Homo sapiens: one gene and its partners. The protein of the gene in region 1 purifies or fractionates together with the protein of each later gene. This does not show direct contact. Each region holds a gene or a part of one and is shown in the gene's direction. Other genes may lie near its edges.

Region 1 (4,263 bases):
CGAGGGCTGAGGCTCTGGGCGTGGCATCACTCTCGGTCCCTCTGCTGGGGGCGGCGAGGAGAGTGCAGTGTGTGGAAAGGGATGCTGGGATGAAGGGTGTGCGCTGAGAGGGGGGCGAAAGATGCTGGGGGTCGACTGGGGAGGGGTCTGCAGAATCGCCTGTGCAGAAGGAAGCTGGAGCGAAAACCGCGAGGCGTGAGCACGGGGCAGGGCAAAATACGGGGGAGTCACAGAATGGTGTGTGAGTGAGTGTGTGTGTGTGCGTGTGAGAGAGAGAGGAGTGCTTAGAGTGTTTGAAAGGGGTGTGCAAACCCCCAGAGTGTGGATGCAGATTTTTCTTAGGGAGTTGTTCAAGGGTGGCGTGTTTGGTACTAATGAGGGTGGGGTTATGAGAAGAAGAAGAAAATGCATCTAACCCAAGACAGGAACCCAGAGGAGGATGGCTGCAGGTTGGGTCAGGGAGGGCTCGTGGGTAACAGCAATGTGAGCCTGGGGTCTGAACCTACCATGGCCCACACCTGACAGACAGTAAGCAGAGAACTTTGTGGTTGGGGGAGCAAAGGAAAGAGACAAAGATAAGCCAAGCGTCCTAGGTGAAGGGACAAGGGAGTGTCAAGGGCACAGGATTTCTCTGCCTGAGTGCTTTCCTTGTTGACAGAGGGAATTTGGCCTCCACCTGCTGAACACAGAACTGCGCTGAGGAAGGCACTGGCTTGGAGAAGATGCCAGAGCTCTGCCAGCTGACACTCAGCCTGCACCTTCAGGACTCATGACTTCTTCTGGCCCCAGAGGCCCAGACAGTGGGCATCACCTGGGGTCCTCCTCTCTTTGGGAAAAAAAGAGGCTTCCTGGGGATTCCAGCAGCCACTGAGGCTGAGGACTCTCAGGCTTTTAGGAGGCCCATGGAGACTCACTTCCTCCCGGGCCCTTTTCCCAAAACACCCACCCTGGGACCCCCTTGGACTCCAGCCCACCAGGCCACCAGGACAAATGGCCTCTGAGACCTTCAACACTGAAGACCCAGGTGCAGCCCCGGCTTCCTAATCAGTCCCAGACGTGGGACAGGACTTAAGTTTTCTCAGAAGAAGTGCCAAGGATCTTTAAAGGGCACGTTTCATCTCCTTCAGCCCCTCCCTCCCAGACACAGCACCAAGAGGAAACATCCAGCAGGCATGGGTGAGAGAGACACAAAAGATCTGCAGGAACTCTTCCAGGACTTGCTGGCAGCTGACCTAGCCCCATTCTTGTCCCCTCCCTTTCTCAGGTTTTGATCATCATTCCAGACCCTAGGGGACCTCAACTGGGTGTCTTGCCCCCTAGGCTCCGGAAGGGGACCTCCCGTGGATCTCAGGAAGCCCTCTGGTGCTCAGAGGCTCCTGGGAAAGTCCCTAGCCATGATACCACATGCTCAGAAGCCCCACCTTCACAGACGCTGGCCCCAGATGTAGCTGCCTTCCTGTGTCACAGACTCTCGATTCCATGGACACAGTCCTCATGGGCTCCCTCCAGCACTGCTGTTGCCTGCTGCCTAAGATGGGTGACACTTGGGCCCAGCTTCCCTGGCCCGGGCCACCCCACCCAGCAATGCTGCTGATCTCCCTCCTCTTGGCAGCCGGGTTGATGCACTCGGATGCCGGCACCAGCTGCCCCGTCCTTTGCACATGCCGTAACCAGGTGGTGGATTGTAGCAGCCAGCGGCTATTCTCCGTGCCCCCAGACCTGCCAATGGACACCCGAAACCTCAGCCTGGCCCACAACCGCATCACAGCAGTGCCGCCTGGCTACCTCACATGCTACATGGAGCTCCAGGTGCTGGATTTGCACAACAACTCCTTAATGGAGCTGCCCCGGGGCCTCTTCCTCCATGCCAAGCGCTTGGCACACTTGGACCTGAGCTACAACAATTTCAGCCATGTGCCAGCCGACATGTTCCAGGAGGCCCATGGGCTAGTCCACATCGACCTGAGCCACAACCCCTGGCTGCGGAGGGTGCATCCCCAGGCCTTTCAGGGCCTCATGCAGCTCCGAGACCTGGACCTCAGTTATGGGGGCCTGGCCTTCCTCAGCCTGGAGGCTCTTGAGGGCCTACCGGGGCTGGTGACCCTGCAGATCGGTGGCAATCCCTGGGTGTGTGGCTGCACCATGGAACCCCTGCTGAAGTGGCTGCGAAACCGGATCCAGCGCTGTACAGCAGGTAATAGAGGGGCAGAACGGGGCAGTCAACAGGGAGGGCTTGCCTCAATGGGAAGCAAAGGCTCCAAAGAAAGCGGGGGAACTTAGAGCCAGAAAGCACCTACTGCATTTTCTAATGTGGGCTTGCCTCTTTGTACACCAGCTCGGCCAACAGGTTGTTTGTAGAATCCTTCCAGTGCATGTGAGGCACCGAGGGCCCATTCATTCATTAAATAGATGTCCCTCACCACTGCGCTGCTCATGACCTAATGAGGCAGACGGATAGTAGACAAGTGAGAATAGCCTATGGTTGGTGGTTTTTATTGAGCTTTCACCATGACCTAAGATCTTGGCATCCATTATCTCATGAGACCCCCATTTTTATTATACCCATTTTCCAGGTGAAGAAACTGAGATTTAGAACAATAAAAAGGCTTGACAGGAATCACACACTTAGAAAGTGGCAGGGCCATGAAAAAAATACAAATTAAAAAATTAAAAAGTGGCAGGACCATGAATAAAACCTAGATTTATCTGACTTCTAAGCCCTGTTCTAATCTACCAGAATGCTTTTTTAGCATTCCAAGTGTTGGAAACTCTCGTATAAATAGTAATGACTAACACAATCTCAACAGAGCTGCAATAGCTTAAGTTGCGTGACAGCCAATATGTTCCAGGAGGAACTTGAGACCTTAGTACTTGCTATTTACCAGGCCCTCTCTTAAGCAGCTTTACCTATCTCTTCCTATCCCCAGAAGAACACTAATGAGATTGCCACTCTACAGAGGAGGAAGCTGAGGCACAGAGAGGTTCAGTAGCTTGTTGGAAGTTACACAGCTGCTAAGTGTTGAAGCCAGGATTTGAGTCCTGGCAATCTCCCTGACTATATCCTGAAGAGTCAGGTTCTGGCCTGCCGGAAGAGTCAGAACCTGAGTCCTGGACTGGCCAAAGGGCTGCAGTAGAGTTCCAGGACCTCATGCAGCTCCAAGACCTGGATCTCAGCTACGAGAACCTGGCTTTCCTCAAACTCAAGGCCCTGAGCAGTGTAAACTTTGGGCACAGGGTAGGGAGCTGAAAGGAAGACTGAGATGCGGCAACTCAACCAGCCAATCCCAACTGGAGGGTGGACTGGGGCCTGAAGAAGCCCAAATCACATAGGTTTGATGGGCATCCCAACCCAGTGGCATCTGAGCCTGACCCAGAGGCAGGCAATGTTCAGCTGTGGCCCTAGCCACCAGCTCTCCTGTGTGACAACACCAAGACTTGGCACAAGAACCCAGAAGTAGTAGCTGAAGGCCCTATCCAAGGGGCTTTCCCAGAACCTGAGCTCAGCCCATGTTGAGAAGAAGCAATGCTGAATGTGGTAAAAGGGAGAGGAGGACTGAGTGGGGAGCCCAAGACCAAAATAGTTTGGGGAGGGCTGTGGGTCACGATTCCAGTGTTTCCACAGAGCTGTAGGAGGAAATTCTCTTGCATCAAAATAGCTGGGGACTGGGATGGGGCGATGGTGGAGGGCAGGAGTGGGAGGATGCCTGGAGCAATCTCTCAACTTGCTCAAACTTGGCAGGCGCGCCTTCCCTCTCTCTCCTGTGCACTAATAACAGAAAGGGCACCCAAAGCACTAAGCTTACATTACACCCAGGGACTCCTTTTCTGTGATCTCTGAGGTCCCTGCTGCTCTGAAGAAGCTCAGACTCCCAGCGAGCAGGAGAGGGGTCCAAGATTTCATCAGTGTAGGCTCACACATACATCAGTACAGGTGAGGAACCTGAGCTCCAGAAGGGGACAGTGACTGTCCACAGGCCCATGATGAGGAAGCAAGCAGTCCCAGCTGGAAAGCCAGGTTCCCTGTTCCTCCACAGAACACACTTAACACCAGGCCACACGCACCAGGGTGCTTCTCCTTAGGGACAAAACCTTGCCAGTGGAGGCAGAACTAGGTGATGCTCTTCCCTTTAGGTCCTTTTCAGCTGCTTCCTCCCTTTTTCTTTGCGGAACTCCACTGTTATCCATGGTTTTTGGAAAAATTGAACAAAGAGGGCCATAATAAGCAAGCCCCTGGGATACAGCATGACTTTAGGACTGGTGCCT
Region 2 (3,500 bases), on another chromosome or scaffold:
CAATACAAAACCAAAACCCGCAAGTAATTTTGCTATGGAGAATTTTAAACATATGCCAAAAATGAGACAAAATAATATTACAAACTCACATGTATACATCCTGTGCTTTAACAATGATCAACTCATGCCCAATCTTGTTGGATCTGTATCCCCAGCCACTTCCCCCCACCCATATTATTCTGAAGCAAATCCAAGATATTGTATACTTTCATCTGTAAATATTTCAGTATGTTTCTTAAAAATACAAACATCTTTAAAAGTGTATAACAACAAAGCCATTATCACACCAAAAAATTAACAGTAGTTCTTAAAATTTATCAAATAGTCAATTGTCAAATTTCCACTTGTGGTATCCATGTAGTATATGTGTATGAGTGTGTTTATTATACTTTGCTTAAATCAGGATCCAGAAATGGTCCACATATTGTGACTGGTTGATACATCTTTTAAGTCTGTCTGTCTATCTATCTATCCATCCATCTATCCATCCATCCACCCATCAATCCATGTATCTGTCTAAAAGTTTCCCTTGCACAGTTTATTTGTTGAAGAAATAGGTTGTTTGTCCTGTGGAGTTTCTTAGGGTCTGGATTTTGTTGACTGAATCCCTGTGGTATTATATGCTCTTCTGCCTCTGTACTTCCTGTCTATTGATAGATAAACCTAGAAGCTTGTGAGATTGAGGGGTTTTTTTTGGTCTTTTTCCAGCAACAGTACTTTTTAGGTGGTGATGCATTCTTCCTCCAAGAGGCACACAATGTCTGGTTCTCTATTTGTGGCAACATCAGCCACTGATGAGCAGTACCTACATCCATGACAGAATTAGGGCTGCAAAAGGGAGATACTCTATCATTCTTCATGTATTAGCTGAAGTAGTCTATGAAGGGAGACTTCCCCTCATCTACCATTTCATTACCCGGTGGTACAGTTTGATGAGGAAAGGCAGAGTGAGCATTTAGATCTCTTCCTACATTTACCAGTTCTCAAAAACAGCTACTTCATCCAGGGCTTTATTTAAACATTTTCCTAGACACTTGATAAACATCTTTTTTGTGTAGAGAACTGCGCTGGGCACTCTGACGGCTACAAAGGTGAGTTGGGCACAGTGCCTGCATTTAAGGAGCTCCCCGTCTAATCAAGCAAGACAGAACTGGGCACAAGTAATAGGAAGCAGTAACTGAAAAGATCTGGGGCTAGAGGCAATGCTGTATGGTAGGAGAAGGGACTGTATATCCTTTATATTGCAAATTGGAACACTGGGGTATTGGTGCCACTTTTAAATTCCGTCCAAATTGTACATTTAAAAGTGGAGAATCTCTTTTGAGTATGGAGGAGGAGCAGTGCAGTTGTGAGTGGAGTGTGTGAGGAGTTGGGAGGGTGGTTTCTGGTAGAAGTGTGTTTAATTAGCCGGCTCTCCCATTCCTGTTTTCCAGACCCTGGTATACATATATGGGGATATGCTCAGCAACGTGGGAGCTGCAGAGAAGGTTTTCTCCTACATGGACCGACAGCCAAATCTGCCTTCACCTGGCACGCTTGCCCCCACCACTCTGCAGGGGGTTGTGAAATTCCAAGACGTCTCCTTTGCATATCCCAATCGCCCTGACAGGCCTGTGCTCAAGGTGCCTGAAAGAGGGAGGAAACCTGGACCCTTGCTCTCTGCTGCTAATGCATAATTGGACATCACAGCCTATAGTTCATTTGCCTCTGAGAACCTGGTCTTGCCTCTGCTAAGAAGAGAAATGGAGGGATTTTGAGGGAGAAGGGGCAGGCCCTTAACTCTTTTTCTGGTTTTCTAGGGGCTGACGTTTACCCTACGTCCTGGTGAGGTGACGGCGCTGGTGGGACCCAATGGGTCTGGGAAGAGCACAGTGGCTGCCCTGCTGCAGAATCTGTACCAGCCCACAGGGGGACAGGTGCTGCTGGATGAAAAGCCCATCTCACAGTATGAACACTGCTACCTGCACAGCCAGGTGGGTGAGGAGGGAGAAGACAGGGGACAGGAGAGGGGAGCATGTACAGAGAGAGGATGGGAGATCCACGGGAAGGCGCACCAGGTGTTCATTCTGAGGGAGGTAGGTGGGGAGGACAAAAGGGCCCCTGCCTTGGGGGTTTACACATAGTCCTCTGCCCCTGTCCCTGCTGCACAGGTGGTTTCAGTTGGGCAGGAGCCTGTGCTGTTCTCCGGTTCTGTGAGGAACAACATTGCTTATGGGCTGCAGAGCTGCGAAGATGATAAGGTGATGGCGGCTGCCCAGGCTGCCCACGCAGATGACTTCATCCAGGAAATGGAGCATGGAATATACACAGGTATCTTCTACAAATTGTAAGCTTGCTCCTTCAGTAAAAAAGAGAAAATCAGACTTACTCTTAGTGGTGAAGGTCGTGTCCCTGTAGCTTGATGTTTGCTGTTCCTCTGCCCTTTCCTCCATTCCTACGTCTCCTTCCCCACACACTGAATTCTTCAGCCTCCCTCTTGATCAAGAGTCTTTGTTTGCAGAGAGCAATGCAGCAGTGGTGCTCCCTCCGTGGGCAGCCCCGTCAGGTCCCCACCCCATGGCCCTCCTCCCACTGGGCCCTCCCCGCACTGGGCCCTCCCACCTCCCGAGGTCCTACTGGAAGTACCTGCTGTGCACTTGTCCCTCCTTGTGTGTTGTCTGTGTCACTTGTATCTGAGGAAGGGAATTTCTCTGATTTCCTCAGATGTAGGGGAGAAGGGAAGCCAGCTGGCTGCGGGACAGAAACAACGTCTGGCCATTGCCCGGGCCCTTGTACGAGACCCGCGGGTCCTCATCCTGGATGAGGCTACTAGTGCCCTAGATGTGCAGTGCGAGCAGGCCGTGAGTACCGTGAGAGGGCAGGGGACAGTGGGGCCTGGGAGGGGCATGCTGGGAGGATCAGACTGTGCAGAATTGGGCAGAGGGAGGACGAAGGACCTACTAGTGGAAACAGTCTGTGCCTTCTTGGGGTTGGGGAATGGAATCCGGTGGTGTGAGGGCAGCCCCAGTTCCCTCCTGGGCTTCCATTCCTCCAGCTGTGGCAGTACAGCCGGGAGAGAAGGGCAGTCCAGGCCTTTATCTACTGCCCTTTCCTACCTTCTTTTATTTCACACCTTCTTTACCCTAAATCATAAGAGATGGTGCCCAGGTGGATGTGGTGTCCATCTCATTCCTGTCTTTCTGAGGCACTGTGATCACCCCTTCAGCTGCAGGACTGGAATTCCCGTGGGGATCGCACAGTGCTGGTGATTGCTCACAGGCTGCAGACAGTTCAGCGCGCCCACCAGATCCTGGTGCTCCAGGAGGGCAAGCTGCAGAAGCTTGCCCAGCTCTAGGAGGGACAGGACCTCTATTCCCGCCTGGTGCAGCAGCGGCTGATGGACTGAGGCCCCAGGGATACTGGGCCCTCTTCTCAGGGGCGTCTCCAGGACCCAGAGCTGTTCCTGCTTTGAGTTTCCCTAGAGCTGTGCGGCCAGATAGCTGTTCCTGAGTTGCAGGCAC
Region 3 (3,500 bases), on another chromosome or scaffold:
TGGCCACTGCGTCCTCTGCTGTCCTCGGAGGCCTGGTTTACCTCTCACACCAGATGGCCAAATGTGGAGAGGCCGTGCCCTCCTCCCAGCGGGTCAGCAGGGTCATCAGGGCCTCCTTTCCCTCCCTCTGTTGGTGAAGAGAAGCTGGGAGATGTTGGGCTCACTGAGCACGGGGCGGGAAGACACGTGCTCCCCGAGTGCTCCCAGAGGCCGCGCCGAGTTCTCCCATCCGGCCCTCAAGGCAGCGCTTCATCCTACTTCACAGACGAGCAGCTGGGCTCAGAGCAAGGACAGCGTAGCTTTTCCAAGGAGAGCGTAGCTTTGCCGGAAGTGCAGAAGCTGGGTTCCTGCCCAGGCTCATCGGGCCCCTCACAGCACCCAGACCTCAGCCCCGACCACACGGGGATCCGTGAAAATGTGGAGGCACAGGGGCTGCAGGATGGCCTTGGACATACCTGGCTCATCAAAATTCAGTCGGCTCGACGTGGGTTTTGGTTGGAAAATTTTCTGATGGCTCTAAGTCAAGCAGGCTGATGTGTCCTCCTCCTCCTCTGTCTCGAGGAGAGCATGGGAGCTGGGTGCTCGCAGCAGCAAATCCTAGATGCCAGTGTCCCACAACCTGGCCGGGCTCCCTGTTGCCCATTCATTTCCATGTGTGAGGAGTTTAGAGAAGTCTCTAGATGTCCATCTGATACCTGGACAGACAAAAAGGCCTCTTGGATTCAGCTACCATTGAGGGTGTTAGAACCATCTGAAGTGTCCTATAACATAGAGCGCTGCCTTGAGGGCCGGATGGGAGAACTCGGCACGGCCTCCAGAAGCACTCGAGGATTTGAGGCCCAGAAGAACAGATATAATGCTGCGGAAGCTTCATGCTGTTGTTGACAGGCTGGTGATGTGAGTAACTGGTAGTAAGATAAGCACAAAGTCATTGGACAGTGACTCTGCCAGACATGGGAGGAAGCGCTTCATGTGCTTCCTGAAAACATATCAATAGCCCTGGAAAGGTTAATCTAATTCCACTTAGAAGAATTCAGTTACCTCTGCAGACTACAGTCAATTTTTTAGACTGGGTTCTAGGTTTAATTTTATTTAAAAAGCTCAGGTCATAATGCAGTTGTTATTGCTTCTTTAACATCATACTTAGTAAACAATAACATATCAGGAGTTCAGTTTGGGGTATATACTTTTTAAAACTTTAAACTTATATGGACTTGCTAATGGACATTGAAATTTTCTTCTCGGAAGTCTTCCATGGTGAGAAAACGTAGCTATTACAGTTGGTTTCTGATGAGTTCTATAATAGCAAAGATATTCAGATCATTGGATCCAAGGTTTTCTGTTAACCATGATATTTTCAAGCTCTTTATAAAATTAGTTATTTTAACCATGGAGAAACTGTGCCTGTAGTCAAAGTAGCCCATTTTTGCTGAGGAAAAATAATGGACCTTGGGAGCTGAGAGGGTCCGTGGACCAGCAGCTGAAACGCCGGCCCTGTGGGCTTACACACAGACCTCAATCTTTGCACCCAAGTATGGCAAGGGAGAAAGTTCTGGAAACTCAGTAGACATGAGCTCCCTCAGACAAGTGAAAGGTTTCTCCTTCTCCCTTCTGTGCCCTGGCTGGTGACACTCAGTTCAAAAACAATGTTTGAATAAAAACATCATTGCTTTATTCAAATCCCTACGGTTTAGCAACACATTTTTTCTTCAAACTATAATGAAAGAGCTTTGTGACCCTCCTACCGCTGGATGGCAGGAAGGAGGTGGAAGAGGAGGGTTGAACTTGAGCCATCCAGGGTTCAGAGTGGCCCTCGGAAGCACAGGGCCAGGGTCCTGGAGACACAGCCCCCGAGGGAGCAGAAGGATCCCTCTAGAGGCAACGACAGACCTCCCAGTACTCGACTTCCCAGATTGCGAATGTCTGATACTGTCGTGGTACTGTTGTCGAAACTAAAAGAGTGACATTGGAACACTACCATTCACCAAACCCCAGCCTTTATTTGGTGCCTCCCATCATCGTGCTTTCCATGACGACTCCTCCCACCCGGGATGCCGCCCAGGACTGCGTCTTGTCCTCCCCTCTCCCTAGTCTCCTGGTCTGACAGCTGCTCAGTCTTTCTTGTTTCTGGTGACCTTGACAGTCTTGAAGAGTCCTGGTTCCCCTCCGCTTCGGGAAGTCTCCCTTTTCTTTTTTAGCTCCCCAGTAGGGGATTACTCCATGAAGACATGCCAGGCTAGGAAGGCAGAGAGGCAACAGAAGGCTGAGGTGGCATTCCTGCTCCCAGACGTGCAAGCAGACAGCTCCTGGAGGCCAGCACCCCCACCATTCTGAATCTTCCCTGTAAATTGCCAGATCAACACCAGCACCTCTGCAGACCCCTTGGCCTGGTGAATGTAACACTGTGCGCTGGTGGACTCCCTTCAGAGGGGCTTTCAGAGCCGCTGGAGCCGCACAAGAAACTCAGTCTCATGACTTTATAGTTGCTCACATCCCTTGGAGCCAAAATATTGTCCAGCCCCCAAGGACTTCTGTTAACTAAAACATGCACACGTATATGCATGCGTATGAATGTGTGCATGTATGGTGTATACACATACACGCAGATGTGTTCACTTATGTATTTGGCTTTCAAAGATGCATATGATGTCCTAAGGGCAGTTTCAGCAGAAGTAGCTACAGCCATAGTTCCACCCCACAAGGCTAAGAAGCATATCTGCATGTGGCCTTCCCAGTCTCCGAGCCGGGGGTGACACAGGCAGATGTAGAGTGTACGGAAAAGAACTGCATGTTTAGATTTGCCCAGGGCCTAATGAGTGCCTCAGTAACCTAGAATATCATCGCTGAGCTCTGTACTCAGACAAAAGTGAACTGAGTCGAGACCGTTTGTGTGCACTCTGACTGGTTCCAAAACAAGGGTTTGTGATGGAAACTTCTGCTGACGGTGCACCTTGGTGCCCTCTCAGGCACCCGAGCGAAACCTGAACTGCAAAGCTGGGGTCTTATGAGTGCCTTTCTATCCTGGAAACCTAGACCCTATCCACTGGCAAAAAAAAAAAAAAAAAAAAAGCTTCTCTCTCCCTTCTGTGGTACCCGAACTGGGGAACCAGGGCTGTGACTGCAGCTGCTGTCCTGTCCTCTGTGGGCGGCCTGCCCAGGGCTCACAGGGTCTGTTTCTTTGCAGAGCTGGAGAAAGAGCTTTCCCGGAGGCCCAAGAAGGTCTGCATCGTGAAGGTGGTGGGGACACGGAACCTGTGGAAGAACATTGTGGTCCTGTGTGTGAACTCGTGAGTCACAGAGGACAAGTGCCAGCTGGGTGGGAGGGGGCCAGGGAAGAAGGTGGGGAGTGGTGAAGCCCAGGGCCCTGCTCCCCACCCCGCTGAACTTGGAATCCTAAGGGTGTGTGTGTGAAGAGTGACACGGGCTAGAAGATATTGACCTCCCCCGCTCCCGGAAGCCTCAAGCAGCCGGTGCCCCCCAGCCCAGGCGTGTAAATCCTG
Region 4 (3,500 bases), on another chromosome or scaffold:
ATGGGCAGCGAGGGGGCTGGACCTGGCTTTGGGACAGGGCAAGGACAGGGATCTTGGGGGGGCAGTGAGGAGCCCCAGGAGAGTGAGAGGGGGCCGGATGCCTCTGACTTCAGAGGGCAGGGGTTTAGATGTTCCCGTGCCAGTGGCTGCCCTGGGAGTCCTGAGCTCAGCGGCAGCGTGCTCGTCTTCCTTCCCCTCGGGGGCATCTCCCGCCGGCCTCGGTTTTTCCCCCAGCCGCTGGTGAGGCCGGGAGTCCTCTGCTGCCGCTGGCCGTTCACTCATCGTCTCTGGGTAGATGTCTGTGCGGGACTCCTGTTGAGATGATCCTGATGTTGGCAACACCCCGGGCGTCCTCCTTCTCCCCATCAGGCCCCACCTGGCTCTGCCCTGGGCCACGTCAGAGGCTGAGGCATCTCACAGTCCACCTGTCCGGGTGCTCTTCGGCCTTGCGTCCGTTTGAGCTCTGCCGCAGTCGCTCCCGAGGCCGGCGCCGTGCTCAGATGCCGTCCTGTACAGCCAGCAGCGCCTCTTCCGGGGCTGCCCTTCTGATACGTTTGTGCTGCCTCTGGAGCCACAAGGCCTTCGGAAGATCTGTTTCGTGGCCGTGGGCGCCTTCGGCACTGCCTTTTTGGACTTCAAAGCCTTTGCTCTGGTGTCAGCTTTGGGAGGGGCAGGAGTTGGGAGAGAAGGGAAAAAGCCAGCACGTGAGATTCAGCAATCAGTCCTCTCCTGTCTCAACCCTGGAGCGGGTGCCTGGCCGGCCACACGCGTGTTGGTTATGCTCATTTTTAAACTGGGTTTGTTGTCTTTATAATTGAGCTGCAGGAGTTCTTTATACATAGATGCAAATCTCTCATCCAATACATGATTTATAGAAGTTTTCTCCCGTTCAGTGGGTTTTCTGTTCACTTTCTCAGTGGTGTCTTTTGTTGCTCAAATTTATTTAATTAAAAAAGTTTTGGCCAAGGGAGGTGATTCGTGCCTGTAATCCTAGTACTTTGGGAAGCAGATGGATTCATTGAGCTCAGGAGTTCAAGATCAGCCTGATCAACATGGTGAAACCCTGTCTCTACAAAAAATATAAATATTAGCTGGGCCTGGTGATAGGCACCAGTAGTCCCAGCTACTTGGGAGGCTGAGGTTGGAGGATCACTTGAGCCCAGGAGGTGGAGGTTTCAGTGAGCTGAGATGGTGCCACTGCACTTCAGCCTGGGTGACAGAGTGAGATCCTGCCTCAAATTTTTTTTTTTTTTTCTGGGCAGGTGTGGTGGTTCACACCTGTAATCCCAACACTTTGGGAAACCAAGGCTGCAGCCCAGGATTTGGAGATCAGCCTAGACAACACAGTGAGACCCTGTCTCTACAAAAAACAAAAACAAAAACGAAAATTAGCCAGGTGTGGTGGTGTGCGCCTGTGGTCCCAGCTACTCAGGACGCTGAGGCAGGTGGATTGATCGAACCCAGGAGGTTGAGGCTGCAGTGAGCCATGATCACACCATTGTACTTCAGCCTGCGTGACAGACGGGACCCTGTCTAAAAAAATTAATTATTACTATTCTTTGAGATGAGGTCTCACTGTGTGGCCCAGGCTGAACTCCATCTCTCAGGCTCAAGCAATCCTCCCGTTTCAGCTTCTTCCTGAGGAGCTGGGACCACAGGTGCATCACACCCCGCACAGGTTGTATTGCTGAGGTTCAGCTAATCTGTTTTTTCTTGTGTTGCTTGTACTTTTGGTGTCAAATCTAAGAAACCATTGCCTCACCCAAGAGTATGACGACTGACCCGTTTTTTCCTAAGAATTTTACAGTTTTAGGTCTTTCATCCCTTTTGAGTTAATTTTTGGATGTGGTGTGAGGTAAGGGTCCAACGTCATACCCTCCCTCTCTCTCTCTCTTTTTTTGAGACAGGGTCTCACTGTCACCCAGGCTGGAGTGCAGTGGTGCAATCATGGTTCACTGCAGCCTCTGCCTCCTGTCTGTCTCCCAAGTAGCTGGGACTCAGGCGCATGTCACCATACTCAGCTAATATTTTGTAGAGATGGAGTCTTACTATGTTGCCCAGGCTGATCACAAACTCCTGGCCTCAAGCAGTCCTTCTGCCTCTGCCTCCCAGAGTGCTGGGATTATAGCTGTCAGCCATTGCGCCCGGCCCAGCTTCATTTTTGCATGTGGAAATCCAGTTGTACCAGCACCATTTGTTGAAAACACTACCTTTCTCTGTTGAAATGTTTTGACACTGTTGTGGGAAATCAATTGATCGTACATGTTTTGGATTTCTTTCTGGACTCTCTCAATTCTCTTCCATTCTTTTGTGGCCATCTTCATGCCAGTACCATGCCTGGTTTTTTTTTTTTTTTTTTTTTTGGCTTTTTTTTAAGAGTTGGGGTCTCACTGTGTTGCCCAGGCTGGGTGGATCACTTGAGGCCAAGAGTTTGAGACCAGCCTGGCCAACATGGTGAAACCCCGTCTCTACTAAAGATACAAAAATTAGCCAGGCGTGGTGGTGCACACCTGTAATCCCAGCTACTTGGGAGGCTGAGGCAGGAGAATGGCTTTAACCTGGAAGGCGGAGGTTGCAGTGAGTTGAGATCGCGTCACTGCACTCTAGCCTGGGCAAAAAGAGTGACTGTATCTCAAAAAAAAAAAAAAAAAAAAAAAAAAAAAGACAGATGAGGGTTTTACTCTGTTGCCCAGGCTGGTCTTGAACTCCTGGCTTCAGTTGATCCTCTTGCCTCTGCCTCCCAGAGTGCTGGGATTACAGGTGTGAGCCACCGCACCCGGCCTCATGGATTGATTTTTGGATGTTAAACTAACTTGTATTCCTAGGCTGAATTCACCTTGCTCCTGGCATTGCTGGAATCACTTTGCTTGTGTCTTACCAAAGATCTTTGCATCCGTGGTTGTAGGGGTGTTGGTCTGTAGTTCTCTTTTTTTTTTTTTTCTTTGAGACGGAGTCTTGCTCTGTCACCCAGGCTGGAGTGCAACGGCGCAATCTCGGCTCACTGCAACCTCTGCATCCCGGGTTCAAGCGATTCTCCTGCCTCAGCCTCCTGAGTAGCTGGGATTACAGGCGCCCACCACCACGCCCAGCTAATTTTTGTATTTTTAGTAGCGACAGGGTTTCATCTTGTTGTCCAGGCTGGTCTCGAACTCCTGACCGCAGCTGGTCCACTTGCCTCGGCCTCCCAAAGTGCTGGGATTGTAGGTGTCAGCCACCGCGCCCCATGTGCAGTTCTCTTGCTGTGTCCTTGTCCTTGGTGTCGGGATGATAATGGCCTCGTGTGTGAGCTGAGAGGGGCCTCTCTCCTTGTGGCCTTGTCAACTGTGCTTCTCTCTTTGCCTTTTTCTGCCACAGGATATGGACCCTCCACATCCCTTCCCCAAGGAGATCCCACACAACGAGAAGCTCCTGTCCCTCAAGTATGAGGTGGGCGTCCTTCTGTCCCCCTGACCCTGAGACCCGGCCTCTGCCCCCTGCCAGCCCACTCCCGGTCCCCTGTG

What was found. The genes of interacting proteins can lie anywhere in the genome.
Region 2: the proteins of LRRC55 (region 1) and TAP2 purify together in Homo sapiens (affinity purification with mass spectrometry; one large-scale study listed by BioGRID and IntAct). This does not show direct contact.
Region 3: the proteins of LRRC55 (region 1) and SLC22A23 purify together in Homo sapiens (affinity purification with mass spectrometry; one large-scale study listed by BioGRID and IntAct). This does not show direct contact.
Region 4: the proteins of LRRC55 (region 1) and CLCN7 purify together in Homo sapiens (affinity purification with mass spectrometry; one large-scale study listed by BioGRID and IntAct). This does not show direct contact.

Annotation. Positions count from the first base shown.
Region 1 is NC_000011.10:57,180,490-57,184,752, forward strand, and holds the start of LRRC55 (leucine-rich repeat-containing protein 55 precursor), read left to right. Parts: upstream 1-1,463; 5' UTR 1,464-1,533; coding exon 1,534-2,194; intron 2,195-4,263.
Region 2 is NC_000006.12:32,828,740-32,832,239, reverse strand, and holds part of TAP2 (antigen peptide transporter 2), read left to right. Parts: intron 1-1,433; coding exon 1,434-1,622; intron 1,623-1,799; coding exon 1,800-1,973; intron 1,974-2,150; coding exon 2,151-2,310; intron 2,311-2,703; coding exon 2,704-2,840; intron 2,841-3,205; coding exon 3,206-3,334; 3' UTR 3,335-3,500. UniProt on the Homo sapiens protein: ABC transporter associated with antigen processing. In complex with TAP1 mediates unidirectional translocation of peptide antigens from cytosol to endoplasmic reticulum (ER) for loading onto MHC class I (MHCI) molecules.
Region 3 is NC_000006.12:3,289,551-3,293,050, reverse strand, and holds part of SLC22A23 (solute carrier family 22 member 23), read left to right. Parts: intron 1-3,184; coding exon 3,185-3,287; intron 3,288-3,500.
Region 4 is NC_000016.10:1,461,529-1,465,028, reverse strand, and holds part of CLCN7 (H(+)/Cl(-) exchange transporter 7), read left to right. Parts: intron 1-3,354; coding exon 3,355-3,426; intron 3,427-3,500. UniProt on the Homo sapiens protein: Slowly voltage-gated channel mediating the exchange of chloride ions against protons. Functions as antiporter and contributes to the acidification of the lysosome lumen and may be involved in maintaining lysosomal pH.